Linked DNA regions of Homo sapiens. The gene in region 3 interacts genetically with the main gene of each other region. Each region holds a gene or a part of one and is shown on either strand. Other genes may lie near its edges.

Region 1 (3,500 bases), on a different chromosome or scaffold from region 3:
TCTTTTTAACTTCTCTACCATTCCTTCACATTCCTCCATTTTATTATTTGCAGGATAGCAATGATAGGATTCATATTTACCTCACTGGATTTTTATGAGACTTAAAAGACCAAATGCTTTGAATAGTAAAACATGAAATTAAAAGGGCTAGGATCTTTATTTTTATGTAATGGAGGGATGAAGATGGAGCACAGGAGAGTTTTTGGAAAGTGAAACTATTTTGCATAATATAGTAATGGTGGATACATGTTATATATTTGTCAAAACCTACAGTGCTTGACTATAGTCCCAGATACTTGGGAGATCGTTTGAGTCCAGAAATTTGACTTCAGCCTGGGCAACATTAATGAGACCTGTCTCTTAAAACAAAACAAACCAAAAACCAAAAACAATAAAACATACAACAAAAAGTGTGAATTCTAATGTAAATTATAGACATTAGTTAGTAATCAGTGTCAATATCATTTCATCAATTGTAGTAAATGTACCACATTAAAACAAGATGTAGGCCAGGCACAGTGGCTCACGCCTGTAAGGACAGCACTTTGGGAGGATAAGGTGGGCAGATCGCTTGAGGTCAGGAGCTGAAGACCAGCCTGGCCAATATGGTGAAACCCCATCTCTACTAAAAATAAAAAAATTAACCAAGCGTGGTGGCATGCACCTGTAATCCCAGCAGCTTGGGAGGCTGATGCACCAAAATTGCTTGAACCTGGGAGGTGGAGGTTACAGTGAGCCTAGATCAAGATCATGCCACTGCATAGAGCTGGACTCTTTCAAAAAATAAATAAATAAATAAATAAATAAAAATAAAAATAAAATAAAAAACAAGACGTAAATAACAAGAGAAACTGTGAGGAGTGGAAGAGGGTATGTGGAAACTCTACTTTCTGATGAATTTTTCTATGAACCTCAAATTCTTTAAAAAAAGTCTATTAAAAAAAAACCCACTGAAGAGCAATGGATGTTTAGAAAAACATGTATCTTTCAAAACAAGGATAAAGACTTCATAAATTAATATTTACCATTCTCCAGCTTGGCTGACTGAATTTAATTCTGTTACATTGTACATAATAGATGGCTCCAGTGAAACCTTCTCCATAAACATAGGTGAGGTTGTCATATTCTGAATCTGGGCTTCCAGAAATACTTCATCAGTCTGAGGATATGAAAAAAATATCCACCAAGGTGTGGTGGCATTTAAAATATTTATCTCAACAAAAATATCTTATCTATATGAAGAAAAAATATTAACCACAAATGTGATTAGTTCATGCCTGCAAATCAAAGTTACCACAATTAATGCAAGAAAAGAAATCTTCACCCTATCATAATTAACAGGGGCAAAGTCAAGTGTTAGTCAACTGATACCTTGTCAAACAATGGATGGAGGATAACTATATTTTGTCTTAACATCCCAAAATACTTAACTGGAATTTCATTTACAAATACTCTTTCTTTTCATTAGGTATTAAAATATTAAAATGTGCTTTAGTATGATGAATATACCTATGCTCCTATAATTTCAGTATTACGTTAAGATAATTAAGTCTTCATTATAATATGGCAGTATAACTTTGATTGTCATATTAATGCCAATTTAGATAGTGTAGTGACCACTAATACTATGAATAATCTATTTTGTAATCTTGAAGGATTTAACTTTTTAAATTAAAGCAATTTGCGAGTGGTCATTAGTGATTTCTTAGTTCATTTTAAATGTATATTGAGGGCTAAAAAAAGAATATGTGGATTATACTTCACCATCGTAGAGCTTTTAAATCAGGCAAAAGGTATTTTGTAGCCTCAGTGACAGATTTTAAAGCTGATGCTATTTAGCAATATTTGCCAGTAGGTAATTTTAATAATTAGATAAATTAGATAATTAGATAAATTTAGATAAATTAATTCCCCTAATTATGCTAAACATTATTTTATGCTATTTGGTTATTATTTTCCTTCATGTAATTGAAGGATAACAGACTAACTTGATTTATCTTTGAAACAAACCTACATGAAAAATGATACACTAAGGGTATTCAATAATTTTTTTCAAAAGTTTCATAGTAATATGTTTACTACACATAAATAACATAAAATCAACTATGACCAGAAAAATTTGCCACTTAAGAGCTTTTTATTTTTTTGAGACAGTCTCATTCTGTCACCCAGGCTGGAGTGTGGTGGGGTGATCTTGGTACACTGCAACCTCCGCCTCCCGGGTTCAAGGGATTCTCCTGCCTCAGCCTCCCGAGTAGCTGGGATTATAGGCGCGCAATATCATACTGAGCTAATTTTTGTATTTTTAGTAGAGACAGGGTTTCACCATGTTGGCCAGGCTGGTCTAGAACTCCTGACCTCAAGTGATCCACCCACCTCGGCCTCCCAAAGTGCTGGGATTAGAGGTGTGAGCCACTGTGCCTGGCCTATGAGCTTCCCCCAACCCCCACAAGATGGAGTCTTGCTCTGTTGCCCAGAGTAGAATGCAGTGGCAAGATCTCCTCTCACTGCAACCTCCACCTCCCAGGTTCAAGCGATTCTCCTGCCTCAGCCTCCCTAGTAGCTGGGACTACAGGCAGTGCCACCATGCCCAGCTAAATTTTTGTATTTTTATTTATTTTGAGACGAAGTTTCACTCTGTCACCCAGGCAGGAGTGCAGTGGTGCGATCTCAGCTCACTGCAACCTCTGCCTCCTGAGTTCAAGTGATTCTCCTGCCTCAGCCTCTCAAGTAACTGGGATTACGGGCAAGTGCCACCATGCCTGGCTAATTTTTGTATTTTTTATAGAGATGAGGTTTCACCATGTTGGCCAGGCTGGTCTCAAACTCCTGACCTCGTGATCCGCTCGCCTCGGCCTCCCAAAGTGCTGAGATTACAGGCATGAGCCACCGCGCCTGGCTGAGCTTTTTAAACACTAACACCAAGAAAATGAAAATCATTTGCAAAAATATAATGATTAAGTTATAATATAATGTACTATTATCTAAAATAAAACAGATTCTTTAGTTTTTGGGACATGTGTTCAAATGAAAATAGAAATAAAATGATTTATCAGTTTAAAAAAATGCATCATTTAATGGCATTTTTTGGTTACTGGTTCTAAAAAAAAGTACATATATCCCATCAATCCATTGCTTTTAAAAAAATAACCACAGACCCACATTTCAATTTAAAAACTGCAATTTTCTGCATAAATTTAGGAAGAGCTTAGATAAAACGAAAGAAAAACAAGCAGCATAATGGAAAATCAAGTTAGTTTGAACAGTTAGTGTAAAGCAATTTGATATTTTAAAAATTAAGAATTCAGTGCTAAGGCAGTTGATGTTATTACATATGTAATGTGATATAAGCAAATGCTGCTTATTGTAAATATAACTTTGAAAACAAAATTTTAGCCAAGTTGGGAAAATTTGCTTTTCTTCTGTTTCATTTTGTCAAGCGGCCATCATCACCTGACCCAGACTTAAAACTAAAACCACTGTGCATCTGAAAATGAATT
Region 2 (3,500 bases), on a different chromosome or scaffold from region 3:
CTTAAGTACTGATGCCAGAGAGGTCTGCCTAAGCTCAGTGCTGTCATTTCACTCCCTGTTTGGAGCCATGAGTGGCCCCCTGTTGCCTTCAAGACTGAAGCCATCCCCATCCTTCCTCCCACCAACCTAGAGGCTTTGCTTCGTAAATGCTGGCCCTTTCCTTCATGGGCTCCACCCTCTGAGTGTGTCATGAACTCTTCCACTTCCTTGCCTTGGTTCGTATTGGGTCCTCTGCCCGAGGTCAGAGATTTGGACGAGCCCTTCTCCTCCATCTTCACAGTCTCCATTTACCATTAGATGCCAGGCCCAGACAGTTGATGAAAAATGTAAGAAACGGACCCAAGTATAAGAAAAAGCTAGATCTGTCCATTTTATTTCTAGTTTTTGGAAGAGATGTGGATACAGAGAAATATTACTCTACTATTGAAAAAAATATATATCAGTCTGATTATAAATGTCAACTCATACTAAGTCAATATCAGGGAAGCAGTGTGGAGAAGGATGTGGCAAACTGGAGATTGCTGTTTCCATAGAAAGAGGGCAGCTAATGCTTATCTCCAGACCATTGTTATGCAGTAATGTAGACTCCATTTCACCAGATTTAATTCTTAAGGAGAAACTGGAAACTTGTATTATTATTTGATTATTACTTTTGGCAGTTAATTTTAAAAATCACCGTTTAGGCCAAAACAACATGACATTTGTCTGGGCTACAAGGGACTCTTAGCGACTCTTAGCTTGCACTTACCTTTCTAATCTCAGGGCTTTTTACAAAGCCCTTCTCTGAATTCCCTGAAGATATGCTAGCTTGAAGGCTCACTGCATACTCTCAACTTCCCAGCCACTTCCCTGTTTCCCTCTTATACCAGTTAATACTTTGATGTTATTTTTTCAGTCCTATTTAATCTTTTAGACTGGAGGTTCCTTGAGGGTGGGGCCTAATTCTTGTTTTTATCTTCCCCATAGCAATTATCAAGTTATCTGCTCCCTTTGGCACCTAAGAAATATTAGTTGGGGTGATAACTGAATGGCTGTCCTTCTGCCTTCGTTACTGCTTTTGTGGATGTTATTTTCTTTGACCCCTATTCCACCCGTGTGCAGTGGAGAGGATGGGTGTTGTATTTTACAGAGGAAGGAATTAACTGAGACGCAACAGGATGATGGGAACTTCTCAAGGTCATGTGGCAAGGAAGTCAAGGAATTGGGGTTTGAACCCAAGTCGTCTCAGTTCCATTCCATTGTCCTCTACCCCCTGCCACCTCTCACCTTCTTCCCTTTCACCTTTTTCTGTAGCTGAACGGAAACCACCGCTCTTTAACATGAATGCGATGAGTGCCTTATACCACATTGCACAGAACGAATCCCCCGTGCTCCAGTCAGGACACTGGTGAGGACTGAGATTCCGAATCTGGGCCCAGGCGTTAGGCCATGGGGTATGGATGCCTGACTCATGCCTTCCCCACCCCTCTCCCACCCTCCTGTGACTTTCAGGTCTGAGTACTTCCGGAATTTTGTCGACTCCTGTCTTCAGAAAATCCCTCAAGACAGACCAACCTCAGAGGTTCTCCTGAAGGTGAGGGCCTGCTGGCCTAGCATTCTCCTGGAACTGTAGCTTGTTACAGCCACAAGAACCCCCAGGGAAATTAGTGGTTCCCAGTTCCTCCTCCACCAAGAGCTTCGTTGATGAATTCCCACCCCATCCCCAATGCCTAGTGGACTCTGTGTTTTACAAGATTTTGTCTACCAGACTGCCTTAATTTATTAAGTAATAAACTGTTTTCCCTTCTTTTATTAATCAAAGATTTATATAATTGCCAGCCAGAGCTTCTGGTCAGCATGTGATAACCAGGGTTGCCCCACTGATCTGATGTAATGCAAGCCAAAAGCCTGTGTAGCCTTATCATGGGTAAATGTATGATTTCCCTTAGGTGTTTTTTGAATTATCAAAAATGGAGGGGCCCCATTCCCTTCACAGACCCATGGGGGCCTGAGGAGCCGTAGTTGGAAACTTCAGATTATGTAGTTGGACCCACTTGTTTTATAATTGTAGGATACTGTATGAAGCCCAGAGGGGCCTCATGACATGTCCAAGGTCACATAGCCCTTTAGTAGAGGAGCTGGACGAGAATCCAGTTCTCCTGACTGTCCCTGCCTGTCAGCCATGCTTAGAGGAAGAAGAGTCTGTCTGGGGAGTAGGTACTGGGTGGTACAGAAAATTGTGAGAGAAGGGCTTGGGATAAGGCCAGCATCAACCCGTGGTGGGCGTGGGCCCCAGAAGAGTGCCTCAGGCCTGAGGGAATGCCAAGGGCTGTGGGTTGTGGGGGGAAGGGGAGTTGGCAGCAGACCTCAGTGCCCTCTTCCCCCAGCACCGCTTTGTGCTCCGGGAGCGGCCACCCACAGTCATCATGGACCTGATCCAGAGGACCAAGGATGCCGTGCGGGAGCTGGACAACCTGCAGTACCGCAAGATGAAGAAGATCCTGTTCCAAGAGGCACCCAACGGCCCTGGTGCCGAGGCCCCAGAGGAGGAAGAGGTGACCCAGCTTGCCCTAACACCCCTCTTTATACCCCATGTGTGCCTGCCCCCTGCAGTTGCTTGGCCCCTTCCCCAGCCCTACTCACACCACCATCTTCCCATGCTACCTCCATGCATATGCCCCAGGGCTTCCCCTTCCCTGTCCAGCAGCCTACGCCCTGTTCGCAGGAGGCCGAGCCCTACATGCACCGGGCCGGGACTCTGACCAGCCTCGAGAGTAGCCACTCAGTGCCCAGCATGTCCATCAGCGCCTCCAGCCAGAGCAGCTCCGTCAACAGCCTAGCAGATGCCTCAGACAACGAGGAAGAGGAGGAGGAGGAGGAGGAAGAGGAGGAGGAGGAAGAAGGCCCTGAAGCCCGGGAGATGGCCATGATGCAGGAGGGGGAGCACACAGTCACCTCTCACAGCTCCATTATCCACCGGCTGCCGGTACACAGCTCACCCTTGGGGGACCCGAGCCACCTGCTCTAGAACTGCCTGGGTCTTCGCCCTCCTTCCCTAAGTGCAGCACTCCTCTGAGTCTGATTGGCTGTCCTCAGGTAGCTCTCTTTGGACCCAGTGGCCTCTGAGCCTTGGGTGTTCCTTCTATCTCCCTCTAGGGCTCTGACAACCTATATGATGACCCCTACCAGCCAGAGATAACCCCCAGCCCTCTCCAGCCGCCTGCAGCCCCAGCTCCCACTTCCACCACCTCTTCCGCCCGCCGCCGGGCCTACTGCCGTAACCGAGACCACTTTGCCACCATCCGAACCGCCTCCCTGGTGAGTGTAGCCATCCTCACTCAGCCTGCTCGCTGTCTGTTTTTTAAGTCTTTTTAAGTCTAGAAATGATTTCCTCCCTGTGGCATGGGATTGAGTCTGGATTCTACCCTCATTTTCTGTTGCTGGCTCCTGCCTGCTCCCCTTAACCCTCCTGCTTCCCTCCTCTTCCCAGTGGACTGTTTTGGTCATATGGCCCAATCTGG
Region 3 (2,746 bases):
CAGCTAGAAAGTAACTAGGACTTTGGAGCTCCTCCAGTGACCCACATTCTGCGTGAGGCCCACTGGGTTCTCACCAGCATCCCCCCGAGGTGGGCATGTCAGCTGTGAAAGACCAAAAAGCACATGGGAAATGTGAAGAACTGAAGTCCTCTGCCTTGGGGTCATGCAGATCAGACTTGCCTTGGCCTGACTGTTGTTAGTGGAAGGTATAGGAAAAAAGTCTACAAATCAGTCGGAACTGCAGTACAGAGTTTCGTAATTTATGTATTCAAATTTCTTTCCAGATGATTTAATGGAGGGAGAAACAGATAGCTTCCCTGTCGTCTTTACTGGCAATCTGCATGCTGAGAAAGCTCAGCTGTCAGAGAAGAGGCAATGCTTTTCTGGAGAACGCTTCCAGGCAACATGCGTGAACACACGTGCCCCACATAGCTCAGCTTCCCTGCCACCAAAGTGTAGTGATGCTTCCAGGAGGGACAAAACCAAACCAGAGACAGAAATGCATACAGAATTATTTTATTTAACTTAAACCATGTAGTACTTTACTAGAAAAAAGCAGAGTAAGAGAAACTAACGTTGCCTTAGCTTCAGCCATTCAAAATAGACAGTTTCTTTTTTCCATTATGTAAAGAATCCAGAGTATATCGCAATAACAGGAATAAATTCTTACAACAGAATATACAAAAACATTTTGAAATTTTTTTCATCTACTGATTTTTTATATAAACAGGATTTTTTAGGAATAATTTATACACAGAAAGTCATTTTATGTAACAAATTGGCCATGTTATTACCTTTTTTTTTCTTACTTAAAAAAATTTTTTTTTAACAAGAAAACTCAGAAAATGCATTATTTGCGGTGCATCCATTCCATCCCGCCTTCTGGTTTGATTTTTTTTATCCCAGACAAAGGGATACCCAGAGGTAGACAAACTCTGGCAAACCTCTCACCTCAACCTCACTGGCTTAGAAAGCAGACAGGTGTTTTCACCGGGCGTCTCTTCCACCGGTGGATGTGTGTGTGCAACGCCAAACATCCAAATGAAAAGTTGAAAACAAAACCCAAATAGTTTCCAGATCTTTCTCCTATGTAGCGCAAAAACCCCAGGTGTTTCCCATGATAGAGATATTGTGGAGTTGGGGAGACATGGCCAACAATCCACTGGAGTTAGAGGAAGTGGAGTCAACTTTAAAACCAATTTTTGTGTATGTTATAGTTTTTATTAAAAATTCTTTTCTGTATTGGAAATACGTATCTTCGGGGTTCTGCCTTAAATAAAATAGGGTCTCTTCTGTGTTCTAACAAAGCAGTAATCAGTCATGATACGAGGCATGTAAGCAAATGGCCTGTGTGCCCCATAGCTGTCATCGTTTATGTGATCACTGTGTATGCTGTAATCATCATGAAAACCATTGGCTGTGCAGTCAAGTCTTCCCATGTCCATGGCACTGTGCTGACAATGACGGCAGCCAGACCAATCAAGCCAGATGCCGAACGGTGCCATGCACTGCTGGGCTCCAACACCTCGGCTGTTTCCATGGCCAATGAGGTTCTTTCCATCTGTTAAAGTAGCTACACTCCAAAGGGAAATGACCAGTAAAAAATGATCCCCTTCCCAACCAGAGGGTTCTGGAAGACCAAGATACTGAAGATACAGAACTACTTTTTAAATCATCATCATTCCTTTGTTATAAACTAGGGCAAAAAGCATGGGGGGAAAAGAGGGTGAACCACGGATGGGGTCAGGGAGAAATCCTTTTTTGGCATATTGTAAAGCTAGCTAGTAAACAGGTGTCCTAAAAAAAAAAAAAAAAAATGGATCACAAACACACATTTGCACACACAGAGAAAAAAAAAGTGTCTTTAAATTATTTTCGGCAATTATAAACTACAAACATTTTATAAAATTATTCTGTTCTTACAAAAATGCAATGAAACATTTAATTAGTTCTTGTAAACCAGATCTTCGTCAACTGACTACCCGTAATCTACTGGACTTAAGAGCCCTATTGAAAACGCTAATGAGTGACTAGTTAAAACAATGTTGACCAGAAAGATGCGGACACACACACGTGGGACATAAAAATGAGTGATCGTTATGTTCTCGCAGAAACAAAACGCTAAAGTCATGCCCCAGAACTGACAACTGACGAGTGCGATGTAGTTTGTGTTCTTGAACAATTCGCCTTAACTCCGAGATCAGTTTCCAGAGTAGGATGTTAGGTTTCTTTGTTGAAACCAAATGCCCACGGATGACTGCTGAGCCTCGATGTGGTCTGATAGCTTCAAGAACAATCAAGTTCAAAACCTTGCCCACATTCCTTCCAAGCCCTGCACCCTGCTGCTCGTAACTCTTCTCTGTGCCAGGATCCCTGTGACAATGGTTCTGTACCCACCACCCGGTCATTCCACCATCAAGGAGCACTCACTTCTCCAAATGACGCAACCAGTCATCTAAGATGAAGGCCAAAAATGAAACCCTCTGACCTGTCCAAGGTCTGTATCTTCAGCATCTCTGGCAACAGAGGTTCAGTCTAAATAACATCCTCTCTTGAAGTTCTCATTTGTACCACCAGCTACTTCAGAGTGAAGAAAGAAAGTGTCTTTCGCCACTGGTTCTTAAGGAGTGGATCTCTGGTCCACATCTCCCAATGCTGCTTAGCCCAGGAAATGAAGACAGCTGACAACACAGAGGAACATTAACGAAAAGAACAAACCCCAAACTTGAAATGCATAACTGGGACT
Region 4 (3,500 bases), on a different chromosome or scaffold from region 3:
TGCCCCATCCATTAAATGGGTAAAATGGAAAGTCTAAATTCCTGTATTATAAGCCCTCCATGATTGGCCCCCTTGCTCACCTCTACAGTCAAGTTTTTGGCTATTCTACCAGTCAGACAGCACTCACAGGTTCCCAGAACAGGATATACCTGGCCTCACACAGTCTCCTTTCTAGCCTGGGCTCATTTTTACTAATCCTATCTCTATCTGTGAGATCCCAAAATCAGACACAATTCCTCAAAGACAGCCACCAGGATAACTACTGGGTTAGGTTCTCCTGTTCCTCCCACTATATACGTACTTCCCAAATACAATGCTGATCACACCAGACTCCGTGAATGCCAGTCTTCTTCCCTTATCTATAAACTCCAGGAAGGAAAGAAGGAACAATGTACAGAGGATAAGTTCCTGGCATACAGAAAATGTTGGCCTAATACAGAATAACTGCCATCTTGTCAACTCTTCTACGCCAGTATTCTTCAAATTATGGCTCAAAAGCCAACAGTGGGTCATAAAAATCAATATAGTAGGCTGCAACCAGTACTAAAAAAAAAAAAAAAAAGAAAAGAAAAAAAAGCAACAGAAAATATGAGAGTATATTACAAGTAATAAGGGTAAGTATTCTTGTGCATTCTTTGAAACAGAGTCTCTAGTGCTACAAGTTAAAGGTAGTTCTTCCTTAAGTGTTGTAAAAAAATTCTTTGGAGCACTGCACTGCTACTTTTCTTCTTCCTCCTTTATAAGAAAGTTTCTTAGAGGCAGGCATAGTGGCTCACATCTGCAATCCCAGCTACTCAGGAGGCCGAAGCAGGAGGATAACTTCAGCCTGGGCAACACAGCAAGACTCCATCTCAAGAAAATTTATTCTTTAAGACCCAGGTGGCTGGGCACGGTGGCTTACCCCTGTAATCCCAGCACTTTGGGAGGCCGAGAAGGGTAGATTATGAAGTCAGCAGATCGAGACCATCCTGCCTAACATGGTGAAACCCCATCTCTACTAAAAATACAAAAAATTAGCCGGGCATGGTGGCGGGTGCCTGTAGTCCCAGCCACTAGGGAGGCTGAGGCAGGAGAATGGCATGAACCCAGGAGGCGGAGCTGGCAGTGAGCCGAGATCGTGTCACTGCACTCTAGCCTGGGTGACAGAGCTAGACTCCGTCTCAAAAAAAAAAAAAAAGATCCATGTAAGAAAATGAAAAATAGAAAAAATTATGCTTAATTGGCCAGGCACTGTGGCTCTCGCCTCTAATACCAGCACTTTGGGAGGCCGAGGTGGGCAGACTGAGGTCAGGAGTTCGAGACCAGCCTGGCCAACACGGTGAAACCCTATCTCTACTAAAAATACAAACATTAGCCAGGCATGGTAGCAGGTGCCTGTAATCCCAGCTACTTGGGAGGTTGAGGCAGGAGAATAGCTTGAACCCAGGAGATGGAGGCTACAGTGAGCCAGGATTGCACCACTGCACTCCTGTCTAGGAAACAGAGTGAGACTCTGTGTCTAAAAAGAAGAAAGAATATGCTTAACACAGTTCTTTATCAAGAAGCCATTCTTAAACATTTCTAACAAGAACAATGTTTTCCATTTTCTCATTATGCCTTAACTATCTGCTGATTTTCATTTCTATTACTTACGTATACAAGACATCTTACATGATAGGATATATAAGATGTCTTGTATACGTGACATGATAATATATATGATATATATATACGTGACATGATACAAGATGTCATGATACTATATATATATGGTTGTCCCTTGGTATCTGCTGGGAATTGGTTCCAGAATCCACTCCCTCCACTGCAGATACCAAAATCTGAGGATGCTCCAGTCCCTGATATAAAGGGGACATGTAGTATTTGCATATAACCTACACACACCCACCCATATACTTTGAATTCTTTCTGGATTATTTACAATACCTAATGCAGTGTAAATGCAACATAAATAGTTGGTGCACTGTATTGTTTAGGGAATAATGACAAGAAAATAAAGTCTGTACATGTCCAGTACAGATGCAACCATGGATTTTTTTCCCCTAAATATTTTCAATCTGTGGCTGACTCCACAAACACGGAACCCTCAGATACGGAAGGCTAACTGTACAGTATTTTTCCATTTTAAGCTCTGTTCCTATATTCTTATACTCCTAGAAAACAACATTTGGATAGATGACATAAGGCTTACTCTTAAGACTCCTCTATGAACATCATGCACTTGGCTTTCTCTTTATCCAGTCTATCTATACAGGAGTTCATCCTTACCCCGTTTCATTTTCTGCCATTTCAAACACCTGTGGTACAAAAATATTACAAAGAAAACTGCAGAAATAAACACTAATTTTTGTTGTTTTAGAAACAGAGTCTTGCTATGTCACCTAGGCTGGAGTGTACAGTGGTGTCATCATAGCTCACTGTAACCTCAAAACTCCTGGGCTCAAGAGATCCTCACACCTTAAGCCTCCCAAGAAGCTAGGACTACAGATGCATGCCACCATGCCTTGCTGACTTTTTAAATTTTTTTTCTAGAGATGGTGGGGGGATGGGGGGTCCCACTACATTGCCCAGGCTGGTCTTGAATGCCTGGCCTCAAGCAATCCTCCTGCCTCAATCTCCCAAAGTGCCAGGATTACAGGCGTGAGCCACAACAATGTTTTAAACTGTGCGCCATTCTGAGTAGCCTGATGAAATCTCACCTGACCGGGTAGTGAATCTCCCCTCCGTCTAATGTATTCACCTGTATAAACTACCAGCCATTTGTCACTTAGTAGCCATCTCAGTTATCAGATTGTCAGACTGACTATGGGGCAGGGCAATGCTTGAGTTTTAAGTAACCCTTATTTTACTTAATGACAGTCCCTAAGTCCAAAAGTAGCAATGACAGCTATATGGATATGCCAAAGAGAAGCTGTAAATTGCTTGAAGGTGAAAGTTCTTGACTTAATAAGGAATGAAAAAAAATTGTATGCGGAGGTTACAAAGATCAAATCTATACATGAAATTGTGAAGGAAAAAAATTCGTGATAGTTTTGCTGTTGTACCTCAAACTGCAAACATCACAGCCACAGTGCATGACAAGTGATTAGTTAAGATGGAAAAGGCATTAAATTTGTGTGTGGAAGACACGGACAGAAACGTGTTCTGACTGATGACAATTATATTCACTACTATACAGGGTTTCAGGTATCCACTGGAGATCTTGGAATGTATCCCGCAAGGATAAGGGGGGACTACTGTATATCCACGAAAAACAAAAACAGGCCGGGCGCGGTGGCTCATGCCTGTAATCCCAACATTTTGGGAGGCCGAGGTGGGTGGATCACGAGGTCAGGACTCCCTGTCTCTACTAAAAATACAAAAATTAGCCGGGCATGGTGCTGCGCAGCTGTAGTCCTAGCTACTCCGGAGGCTGAGCAGGAGAATCGCTTGAAGCCGGGAGACGGAGGTTGTCATAGGCCGAGATCACGCCACTGTACTCCAGCTTGGGCAACAGAGCAAGA
Region 5 (3,500 bases), on a different chromosome or scaffold from region 3:
AAAAGAAAATATACATCAATCTATTGTGGGAGAGAAAAGAACATAAAATATTTTCTCACCAATATAAAGTATTTAGATTATATATTTAGCATTCTTCTACCATTATTCATCTTTTTAAGGCAGGTAATTGAGAATGGACTGTATTTAATAGCTTGGTGACAGAGGCACAGATACACAGGCAAGCAAATCATTCGCTCACCCCACTGTGCTTTTCGCAGTCTTATTCTTGGTAGCCTGAGACCTGGGAGCGGGAGGAGGCAGCAAGTCACTGCAGGTGGATCACTTAAAAGGAAATTGAGAGTTGACTGTAATTTAAATTTAAAGTGCTATGAAATACCACCACTCCTACATGTATTCATTATTGTTTGTGGGACTACTACTCACAGTGATTTAACAAGGCTACAAATGCTTTCTTTTTAACCTTTTCAATATTCCAGGTCTGTAGTGATATGTGAGAATTACAAAGGTAGGAGGCTAAAGTGCTGCAAGTATAAAGTAGTATGCATTTTAGAGGTGAGGAAATTGAAGCCAGAGAGGTTAAATAGCATGCCATATCTTCCTCAGATTAAAGCAGAACCTCGTTCTCTGGACTTCAACTTCAATGCAACAGTCTAGCAGCCCCTTCAATTCAAAACTCTTCTCCTGGCTTATGTATCAGGCCATTCTTGCATTGTTACAAAGAAACACCTAAGACTGGGTAATTTATAAGAAAAGAGGTTTAATTGGCTATCATTTCTGCAGCCTATACAGGAAGCAGGGCACCAGCACTTGCTTCTGGGATGGCTTCAGGAAGCTTTTACTCATAGCAAAGACGAAGCGTGTGCAGGCATCTCACATGGCAGAGCGGGAGCAAGAGGGAGCTGGGGGGAAGGAGCCACAGGCTTTTAAATAACCAGATGTTGTGAAAACCTACTATCACGAAGACAGCACCAAGCCATGAGGGATCCACTCCCATGACCCAAACACCTCCCACCATGCCCCATCTCCAGCATTGGAGATTACAATTCAACATGAGATTCGGGTGGGGACAAATATCCAAACTGTATCATTCTGCCCACGGCCCCTCCCAAATCTCATGTCCTTCTCACACTGCAAAATAAACTCATGCCTTCCCAACAGTCTCCCAAAGTCTTAACTCATTCCAGCATTAACTCTGAAGTCCAAAGTCTCATCTGAAACAAGGCAAGTCCCTTCCACTTATGAGGCTGTAAAGTCACAAATAAGTTATTTACTCCCAAGATACAATGAGGATATAGGCATTGGATAAACATTGCCATTTCAAAAAGGAGAAATCAACCAAAAGAAAGGGGCTACAGGCCCCATGCAAGTTCAAAACCCAGCAGGGCAGTCATTAAATCTTAAAGCTCCAAAATAATCTCCTTTGACTCTATGTTCCACATTCAAGGCACACTGCTGCAAAGGGTGGGCTCCCAAGGCTTTGGGCAACTCTGCCCTGTGGCTTTGCAGGGTTTAGCCCCCAGGAATGCTCTCACAGGTTTTAGTTGAATGCCTGTGGCTTCTCCAGGTATAGGATGCAAACTGCCAGTGGATCTACCATTCTGTGGTCTGGAGGATGGTAGGCCCCTTCTCACAGCTCCACTAGGCAGTGCCCCACTGGGGACTCTGGGGGGCTCCAACCCCACATTTCCCCTTGGCCCCACCCTAATAGAGATCCTCAATGAGGGCTCCACCCCTGCAGCAGGCTTCTGCCTAGACACCCAGGCTTTCTCATACATCCTCTGAAATCTAGGCAGAGGCTCCCAAGCCTCAGTTCTTGCACTCTGGGCACCTGCAGGCTTAATAATACATGTAAGCCATCAAGTCTTATGGCTTGCACCCTTTGAAGCAGCAGCCCGAACTGTACCTGGGCCCCTTTGAACAAGGCTGGAAGCCTGAGTGGCTGGGATGCAGGGAGCAGTGTCTTGAGGCTGTGCAAGGCAGCAAGGCCCGGCTAGCCCAGGCCCACAAAACCATTCTTTCTTCCTAGGCCTCTGGGCCTATGATGAGAGGGGCTGCTGTGAAGGTTTCTAAAATGCCTTGAAGGCCTTTTCTCCAACTTCACGGATATCAGCACTTTGGCATGTGTTTAATTATGCAAATATCTCTAGCACGTGGTTGCTCTATAGCCTGCTTGAATTCCTCCCCTGAAAAAGCTTTTTCTTTCTTTGCCACATGGCTAGGCTGCAAATTTCCCAAACCTTTATGCAGTGCTTCCTGTTTAAAAACAAATTCCAACTTTAAGTCATTTCTTTGCTCCTACATCTTAGCATGGGCTGTTAGCAGCATCCAGGACACATCTTGAACACTTTGCTGCTTAGACATTTCTTCCGCCAGATACCAGAGGTCATCACTCTCAAGTTCAAACTTCCACAGGTCCCTACAGAATGAACAGAATGCAACCAAGTGCTTTGCTAAAGCATAATGAGGGTGACCTTTGCTCCAGTTCCTACTAAGTTCTTCATTTCCACCTGAGACCTCATCATCATGGACTTCATTGTCCGTATCACTACCAGCATTTTGGTCACAACCATTCAACCAGTCTCTAAGAAGTTCCAAACTTTCCCTCATTTTCCTGTCTTCTGAGTCCTCCAAACTCTTCCAACCTCTGCCTGTTACCCAGTTTCAAAGCTGCTTCCATATTTTCAGGTATCTTTAGAGCAATGCTCCACGCCCACTTACCAATTTTCTGTAATAGGCTGTTCTTGCACTGCTATAAAGAAGCATCTGAGCCTGGGTAATTTAAAAGAGGTTTAATTGGCTATTGGTTCTGTAGGCTGTACAGGAAGCATGGTGCCAGCATCTGCTTCTCGGGAGGCCTCAGGGTGTTTCTGCTCAAGATGGAAGGTGAAGCAGGAGTAGGCATCTCACATGGCAAAGTAGGAGTGAGAAAGAGTAAGAGGGTAGGTGCACACTTTTAAACAACCAGATCTTGCCAGAACTCACTATTGCAAAAACAACACCAAGCCATCAGGGATCCATTCCCATGGCCCAAACACCTCCCACCAAGCCCCACCTCCAGCATTGGGGATTACAATTCAACATGAGATTTGGGTGGGGACAAATATCCAAACTGTTTTAGCTTAAGAGATCACAATTTTCTCTCTTCTCTTCTATTGACTCCTTTCTTCTTATTGATTCCTACCCTATGATATACACCCTCATCATCTTATCTATTTTCATACATTCAAATCTTCAGCTCTTTTTCCATTTATATCCCTTTTCTCAACATCTTACACACAGAACAATCAGACTAGAAATTCAGGGCAACTAAAACCTCCATTCCAGTATTTGCTGCCACCTTTTACACATTTATATAATCACGTGAAATTCAAGGTGCAAAGCTGAACTCATTATCATCCTTCCCAAAATGACTTCTCCATTTTATGGCACCATCAATTTCATTGTCCCTTAGGACAGTAATCTTAAAGTACTCTTTTCCTTCTAATCTCCTTAATACTGTACTATTCTTTTTCCCATGTCTCTCACTCCCTTCTTCCAGT
Region 6 (4,103 bases), on a different chromosome or scaffold from region 3:
CTACAGGTGGGGGTAAAGAGGTAGCATAGCCTGCCTGGTGTCACAGAGCTATGGGTGATGAGGGACAGCGCCTGTGTCCCTAGTGGCTACGCAGGGCACTGCCCCTCCCTGCACCACTGGATGCTCAGACTGAAGCTGCTGTGGAGAGCAGGAGCCCCAGGCTCCTCAATGATGTGGTCTGGACTTTTTAACACAGACATCAGGGGTGCGGAATCAGTCCACTTTATCCCCTTGTCTCTAACACAAGCTTCTGCAAACTTAGGCTCATACACAGTCTTCCCGATGTCCCTGCAAGCTCCTGACATTGCATGCAACATTTCGTAGGTTTGTGCGTTTTTCTGGGGAACGTAGATTTAGACTTTCATCAGATTCCTGAAGGAATATGTGACCTAAAAAAGGTTAAGAGCAGTCTGATGGTTCTGGAAGGAAGAAGTCTGAAATTGATTAAACAAGGCCTAGCTATGCCTGCTACCCTCGGTTTTCCTGCCATGGCCACACCAGGGCTCCCTTGCCCCTGAAATTCTCTGTGAAGGCTCACGAAGGGTCTCTCTACCAAGTTGCCCCCACAAAACCCAGTCTTAATGATATCCATCTCCTCTTGGGGCAAAACATCACTTTTATTTTCACTTTGAGCACTTGAGTCACATCTCAACTCCATCTCACTGTACTCATGACGCAGTCCTGCCAGGACCCAGTCTTGGTCACTCCCTGAAAGGCAGCTTCATGGCTAATCAGGGAATTCTTGGGTTCTAGGCGAGCACTGGAAAACACCTGGAGAGGGGTCCCTGCACAAGTTTGTAGACAGCCTCAGTCCTCCAGAGCAGCCCCAAACATTTTGTTCCTGCCCCTACCCGCAAAAAAAGCACATTCAGAAAAGCTGAAAGTCTGCAGATAAGAGTGAACACACGTACACATGGGGGTATATGTGCTCAAGGGAGGTGGTGCATGCCTGTAGGATAGCCTCTGTGTGTGTGTGTGTGTGTGTGTGTGTGTGTGTGTGTGTGCAAGCAGCCTTCCTGTATACAGTCACAGGGCCACCTCCCACACATATGCAGACACCAGCATGAGCTCACACATGCCTATAACACCCATACTCCCACATAACCCTGTGAGCCCAGGCCTCACACATGCACACACATGCGTGTGCACACACACGTACATCATCCTGTGTGCATGACCCCAGTCTTCACGTAGATGTGCATATCAAGACCTCACAGGAACACCATTGTGTCCGCATCTCATATGAGCATCCTCACACACCCCTAGACCTCACACACATGTGCCTTCCTATGTGCACACAGCTCTAACCTGCCATACATGTGCACATTTAATGAGTCATGTTTACACCCTTGTTCTCATTCAACCCAGCCAACAGCACTCTTGTAATACTCACACACATGCACCCTTGCAAGGCACACTTGCATTTTCAGGCCTTACACACGAAGCACCTCTTCCTGGTGCACATGCATGAATGCTTGCACACCCTGGCAGGGCACACCAGCGTACCCCAGTGTCACAAGCAATTTCCCTCAAAAGCCCTTCTACAGCCACACACATCACTCCTCAAAATGCACACTAGTACACACACATTCAGAACTCACACCAATACACACCTGCCTCCAGGGCCCCTCCCCCCGTGCTCCTGCTGCCTCAGCAGAAACCAACCAGGGCATCGGTGCTCCTTTGCCCACAAGGCAAACTCTGCCTCCAAAATGCACCCAACCCTTGACCCATCCCAGGATCCTCCAGAAACCCAGCTGGGGACATCCAGGAATCCCTCCCTGACACTCCACACCCTACTGGGCCACCCACAAGGGCCTCCCCTCTTTCCTCATCCTCCCATCCTTCTCTACACAGCAGTCATCAGGGCAGAAAATGAGCTCTGGGCTGGGCAACTTTGCTTGTCCAGAGCCACTGCACCCTTCATACCCTAGCCCCTGAAACAGCGGTGCTCCCCGCTACAGCTTTCCTGATTTCCTCTCCCCACCTCCCAACACCCGGGAAGCCTGTCATGCTCAGATATTAACCCCTACTGTACTGACGCCCTCACTCCTGGCAGGAGCTGAGAAAGGGGAGGTAGGGAGGGAGAAGTTGGCCACTCTGTACAGTCACTGTGGGTGTCTAAAGTCAGGAAGAACTACCGGGAGCTGGTGAATTCTCTGTCACTGGAGGTATCTAAGTGGAGGGCGGATGGCCACCTCAAGCAAAACTAGAGAAGGAATTCCAGCTTTGGACCCAGCTGACTAGGAAAATCCCTTTTTAACCCTAAGTCTCTAAGAATCTGTGTGTATCCAGGTTGTGTGTACTTGTGTGCATTTTGTGTGTATGTGTGTGCACTGGCATACACTGTCAACCCTTCATCCCTACATACACACTGGCCTGGCTAGCTTGGCACATCTGTGCACCCACAAACATACCCACGCCCGACTCTGGACACTCTGTACACAGGCAGGTGCCCCCAAACCCATGCAGCCTGCCTTCATCTGTGTACAAGGAATGCTCCCCAAGCACTGCAGGCACACACACCCCACTAGAGACCCTGACCTCCCCGCCCCCCATGCCTTCCAGGACTTCCTGAGGCACAACTCACTTGCCCAATTCCTCGAAGAGCTGGTACTCTTCCGTGAAGCGGGTGCAGGTGATGGTGGCCATCCTGGCGCTGGGCAGGCAGGTGAGGCTTGGGACTGGGGGACCAGGACTGAGGCGCTGCTGCTCTGCTCCCGAACCTAGGGACCACTTGCCTGCCCGTGCTGCCGAGTGCAAACAGAGAACCGGTTTGACTGACGAGCCCGGGGCTTCTGAGCAGGGCACTGTGGCTGCTCACAGCCTCGCGAGCCTTCGTCAGCATCCAGGTCCCCATGGCAACCACCTCCAAAACGCCCTGTTCCCGTTGCCCCGGTAACTGCCTCCCCAACACCTGCCTGCCTTCCACTGCGAAACCTGCTCTCGGACGCCCTGACCATACCGCACACAATACTGCAAGCCTGTGTGGGCCTGGGGGTGGGATGGACCCAGCACCCCTGGGGTGATGGACCCAAGGAGGGCCTGGAGGAGGTGGAATAGAGCAAACTTTGTCCACAAGTGATCTTTTCTCTTCCCACCTCCCCCACCTCCAACTGTGGGGCCCTTGTAGCAGACGGGATGGGATTAAGTGGGGCAAAAAGGCAGTTGCCATGGTAACAGCCAGTGGGTGCCGCATTCCGGATGGTCCCCAGGAACGAATGACAGGATGCAGTTACCCTGGCAACTTCATCTCTAGAGAGACAGGTATTGCCCCGTTGCCCTGGCAACAGCTGGGTTCTAAGGTTTACAGGGAAATGATGGCTAATTCACAGGGATGGCTCTCCCTCTGTGGATCACTGTAGTCTCTGTAACTGTCTCTCTGTTGCCCTCTGTTTTTTTTTTTTTTTTTTTTTTGCTTCTGCCTCTGTCTTTCTTGTTATGCTCGTGCTCTTTCAGCTCTCTTACCACCTTGTCCATCACACTAGCACTCCAGCTTGGCGCAGAAGTGCAGAGGACACCCCAGGATTCTGGAGGGAACAGCCCTGACTGCCTGCTCACCCCCACCTCTCACAGCTGTGACAGTTGCTCCCCTCCAGAGCCCTCCTCTGCAACCTCTCCCCAACCCCATGCCCCCAACGGGACCATGGAAATCTGGTCTCCTGGTGCTCATGTCCCAGTTTCTGCTTGTGCTTCCAGTCAAGGTAAAAAAAAAAAAAAAAAAAAAGGCGAGAGGGGGCTGTGGGGAGGTGAGCATAGCATGGCTTACCCGGGCTAGGCCACTGGCCAGAGACTTGCCATGAAATCTTCAATCCAAAATTTTCTGGGCACCTTCCCTGCCAACTTCAACTCTTCAGGGCATCAGCCATACCTACAGCCACAAGATCTTACTCCAAGGTCTTGGAGTTAGGAAGAAAAGGGACTGGAGTTTAAGACTAAGGATCTGAGTTTGAGCTCTGATTCCTGGACATTTATTATTTATATTATTTATTTATTTATTTATTTATTTTGGAGACAGAGTCTTACTCTGTCACCCAGGCTGGAGTACAGTGGTGCAAGCTCGGCTCACTGAAGCCTCCGTCTCCTGGGTTCAAGTGATTCTC
Region 7 (3,500 bases), on a different chromosome or scaffold from region 3:
CCAAAGGGAGAAAAATGAGGCTAAACAGGTAACTTGCCTGAGTCGCACAGTCATCAGAGCGGTGGGGATCTGAAGCCAGACTCCTCCTGCTTCTGCACACTGCTGCATGCGCTGCTCCCACATCTGGGCATGGCTATTATCTAACAAGCACTGTGTCTATTATAAGCAGGAATCCCCGGGGTAAAATTTCACAGCTCATTTTCTACAGCCAGTCTCACAGATGGAGCTTTACCTCCCAAATATATCCTGAATCAACTACTTCTCAGTATCTGTGCCACCACTCCTAGTCAAAGCCACCACTGTCACTCACCCAGACTACCGTAATAGCTTCGTCTGGCAGCCGTGAGAATGCAACCTCCAACTACAAGGCGCATAACCAAGGGCCCCAGCTGCTGCTCTGAAACCCATCACTAAGTTTGTGCCAACGTCACCCATTGCTCCCAGCCAATGACAGAACACAGTAGGGATGCTAAGGCTATCCTGCTCTTGGGAGACACAGACCTCTCTGACAGCCAACTTTGGCTTGAGGACCCCGCGGTGGCCCTGCAGAGTAGGCTAGAACACTTCTATCCGAATTTTACCCTCTTGCTTACTCAGGGTCAGATGTGCATTGTGGTCCGATGCTTCTCCCAGCTTCCTCCCCATATTCTCTTGAAGGCTGTTTCCCTAATAAAATCCATGCACTTTTAAATCCACCTTCTCAAGCCAACACATCTCCTAATTGGTCTCCCTGCTTTCATTCCTGCCTTTCCCCACATTTTTTCCTATAAGCAGTCAGTGATTGTTAGAAACGCATGACATCACATTATTCGCCTGTGTGCATACTTCCAATGTTTACCCCTGTGAAAGCTCGTGTTTACTGTGAACCGTGGGCCTATTAATTTGGCCCCTCCTTCCCTCTCCCTTGCTCCCGGTACACCAGCCATACTTCCCTTTCTTCTGTTTCATCAATGTCTCACACTCTTCCACCTCAAAGCCTCAGCCTGGAACACAGTCCCCCGGCCTGCTGCAAGGTAGCTCCTTCGTGTCATGTGGACCCCCGTCAAATAACACCACCTCAGGGAGGGCCTTCCTTGACCCTCCACTCACCCCCTCCCCATCACTCTCTATTCTATTCTGGTTTGACTTTCTTCATAGAACTTGCTGCTATCTGAAATTATCTTATTTACTTATTTATTATGTTTCCTGCCACAAAATGTCAGCTCCATGAGGACATGGATCTCGCCTTGCCTCGCTCACAGAATGGTACACGGGGAGCCTGGACTCCCCTCTGCCGTGGCTTCTCACCTCTCCCTCCATGCTGCTGATTCGGACCAGCTCGTTAAGGATCAACAAGGCTCCATGGATCCGATCATCCCGATTCATGCCCTTCTCTTTGGCCAAGGTCTCATCAAATCCCTTCTCTGCTTCTTCAAATGTGTGCTATGTAGAGAGACAGGGTGCCTTCATTAGAGACAGAGTACAAACCCAGAAAGAATACAGGCCCATCCCATCTACACTGGGGGTTCTGAGGTGCTACCACGCCTGCTCAGTGCCTAGTGCCAGTCATCAACAAAACTAACTGATCAATCTCTTTTATTTAATTCAGCTTCAATTTTTTTTTTTTGAGATGGAGTCTTGCTCTATTGCCCAGGCTGGAGTGCAGTGGCGCAATCTCGGCTCTCCACAACCTCCACCTCCTGGGTTCAAGTGATTCTCCTGCCTCAGCCCCCTGAGTAGCTGAGATTACAGGCACACACTACCACGCCTGGCTAATTTTTGTATTTTTAGTAGAGACAGGGCTTCACCATGTTAACCAGGCTGGTCTCAAACTCCTGACCTCAAGTGATCCACCCATCTCAGCCTCCCAAAGTGCTGTGATTACAGGTGTAAGCCACCACGCCCAGCCCCAGCTTCAATTCTCATAATAAGCCTTTGAGGAAGATACCATCATCATCCCTATTTAACAGCTAAAAACACAGGCTCAAAGAATTTAAGTGACTTGTCCAAGATCACACAGCAAAGGCAAGACTGGAACCCGCATCTCCCAATCCCATGTTCAGAGCTCTTTTTCTAATATAAGACTCACTGATAAGTTCCCTCTGCAGCAGTAATCAGCACAGGCCTCATTATACTAGAGCAGAGAGAAATGGCACTTTCTAAATTAGTATCATTTGTATCTCACTGATTTTGAGACACCTATTTTTCCGTATTTTAACATCTCTGAAAAGAGATGTCTTTTTTTTTTTTTTGAGACAGAGTCTCACTCTGTTGTCAAGTCTGGAGTGCAGTGGCATGATCATGACTCACTGCAGCCTTGATCTCTTGGGCTCAAGCAATTCTCCCGCCTCAGCCTCCCAAATAGCTGGGACCACAGGCGTGTAACACCAGGCCCAGCTAATTTTTTTATTTTTTGTAGAGACGGGATCCCACATGCTGCCCAGGCTGGTCTCAAACTCCTGAGCTCAAGCAATCCTCCTGCCTTGGCCTCCCAAAATGTTGGGATTACAGGCGTGAGCATCCAGCTGAGATGTCTTATAATTAATTATTAATAAGAAGAAGGTACAAAGTTGGCCGGGCACAGTGGCTCATGCCTGTAATCCCAGCACTTTGGGAGGTCAAGGCAGGTGGATCATGAGGTCAAGAGATCAAGACCATCCTGGCCAATATGGTGAAACCCTGTCTCTACTAAAAACACAAAAATTGGCTGGGCGTGATGGCACATGCCTGTAGTCCCAGCTACTCGGGAGGCTGAGGCAGGAGAATCACTTGAACCCAGGAGGCAGAGGCTACAGTGAGACAAAATCACACCACTAAACTCCAGCTTGGTGACAGAACAAGACTCCATCTCCAAAAAAAAAAAAAAAAAAAAAAAAAAAGAAAGAGGTACCAAGTCACAGTTTAATTGGCATATTTGCATTCTTAGTCATACATAAAATAATGTATAGAATAATGGTATGGCTATCAATAGATGTTTGCTTTAATAAAATGCAATAAAGTAACTATTGATTCATACTGAGCATAAAAAATTCATTGGAGGCCAGGCGCGGTAGCTCATGTCTGTAATCCCAGCACTTTGAGAGGCCAAGGCAGGTGGATCACCTGAGGTCAGGAATTCGAGACCAGCCTGGCCAACATGGCAAAACCCTGTCTCTATTACAAAAATTAGCTGGGCGTGGTGGCACACGCCTGTAGTCCTAGCTATTCGGGAGGCTAAGGTGGGAGAAAATCGCTTGAACCCAAGAGGCGGAGGTTGCAGTGAGCCGAGATTGCGCCACTGCACTCCAGCCTGGGCGACAAAGCAAGACTCCATCACAAAAAAAAAAAAAAAAAAATTCATTTGAGAGCAAACCAAAACGTGATTCTTGCTCCATGGCAAGGGCTTGTGGCTGCCCTTTAGGCCAGGTGATTCTCTACGCAGATGTGCTTTGCTAGTGGTGGGAATGGAGCCATCTCCTTACCCTGTACCACTGAGGCTTCTGCATCTCCTTCGGCTCACGCTGGGTTGTGAGAATCAGACA

Evidence for each region.
Region 1: changes in IGF1R (region 3) and TRAPPC13 together harm fitness more than expected from each alone (negative genetic interaction), as found in Homo sapiens cells (one large-scale study listed by BioGRID).
Region 2: changes in IGF1R (region 3) and TAOK2 together harm fitness more than expected from each alone (negative genetic interaction), as found in Homo sapiens cells (one large-scale study listed by BioGRID).
Region 4: changes in IGF1R (region 3) and EP300 together harm fitness less than expected from each alone (positive genetic interaction), as found in Homo sapiens cells (one large-scale study listed by BioGRID).
Region 5: changes in IGF1R (region 3) and RICTOR together harm fitness less than expected from each alone (positive genetic interaction), as found in Homo sapiens cells (one large-scale study listed by BioGRID).
Region 6: changes in IGF1R (region 3) and CAMK2A together harm fitness less than expected from each alone (positive genetic interaction), as found in Homo sapiens cells (one large-scale study listed by BioGRID).
Region 7: changes in IGF1R (region 3) and MTOR together harm fitness more than expected from each alone (negative genetic interaction), as found in Homo sapiens cells (one large-scale study listed by BioGRID).

The regions. Positions count from the first base shown.
Region 1 is NC_000005.10:65,656,027-65,659,526, reverse strand, and holds part of TRAPPC13 (trafficking protein particle complex subunit 13), read right to left. Parts: intron 1,160-3,500; coding exon 1,026-1,159; intron 1-1,025.
Region 2 is NC_000016.10:29,980,368-29,983,867, forward strand, and holds part of TAOK2 (serine/threonine-protein kinase TAO2), read left to right. Parts: intron 1-1,293; coding exon 1,294-1,387; intron 1,388-1,491; coding exon 1,492-1,573; intron 1,574-2,366; coding exon 2,367-2,534; intron 2,535-2,683; coding exon of another isoform or gene 2,684-2,704; coding exon 2,705-2,965; intron 2,966-3,135; coding exon 3,136-3,297; intron 3,298-3,500. UniProt on the Homo sapiens protein: Serine/threonine-protein kinase involved in different processes such as membrane blebbing and apoptotic bodies formation DNA damage response and MAPK14/p38 MAPK stress-activated MAPK cascade.
Region 3 is NC_000015.10:98,962,285-98,965,030, reverse strand, and holds the end of IGF1R (insulin-like growth factor 1 receptor isoform 1 precursor), read right to left. Parts: 3' UTR 501-2,746; downstream 1-500. UniProt on the Homo sapiens protein: Receptor tyrosine kinase which mediates actions of insulin-like growth factor 1 (IGF1). Binds IGF1 with high affinity and IGF2 and insulin (INS) with a lower affinity. The activated IGF1R is involved in cell growth and survival control.
Region 4 is NC_000022.11:41,099,092-41,102,591, reverse strand, and holds part of EP300 (histone acetyltransferase p300), read right to left. Parts: intron 1-3,500. UniProt on the Homo sapiens protein: Functions as a histone acetyltransferase and regulates transcription via chromatin remodeling. Acetylates all four core histones in nucleosomes. Histone acetylation gives an epigenetic tag for transcriptional activation.
Region 5 is NC_000005.10:39,064,400-39,067,899, forward strand, and holds part of RICTOR (rapamycin-insensitive companion of mTOR), read right to left. Parts: intron 1-3,500. UniProt on the Homo sapiens protein: Component of the mechanistic target of rapamycin complex 2 (mTORC2), which transduces signals from growth factors to pathways involved in proliferation, cytoskeletal organization, lipogenesis and anabolic output.
Region 6 is NC_000005.10:150,286,974-150,291,076, forward strand, and holds the start of CAMK2A (calcium/calmodulin-dependent protein kinase type II subunit alpha), read right to left. Parts: upstream 2,801-4,103; 5' UTR 2,653-2,800; coding exon 2,591-2,652; intron 1-2,590. UniProt on the Homo sapiens protein: Calcium/calmodulin-dependent protein kinase that functions autonomously after Ca(2+)/calmodulin-binding and autophosphorylation, and is involved in various processes, such as synaptic plasticity, neurotransmitter release and long-term potentiation.
Region 7 is NC_000001.11:11,252,552-11,256,051, forward strand, and holds part of MTOR (serine/threonine-protein kinase mTOR), read right to left. Parts: coding exon 3,441-3,500; intron 1,423-3,440; coding exon 1,288-1,422; intron 1-1,287. UniProt on the Homo sapiens protein: Serine/threonine protein kinase which is a central regulator of cellular metabolism, growth and survival in response to hormones, growth factors, nutrients, energy and stress signals.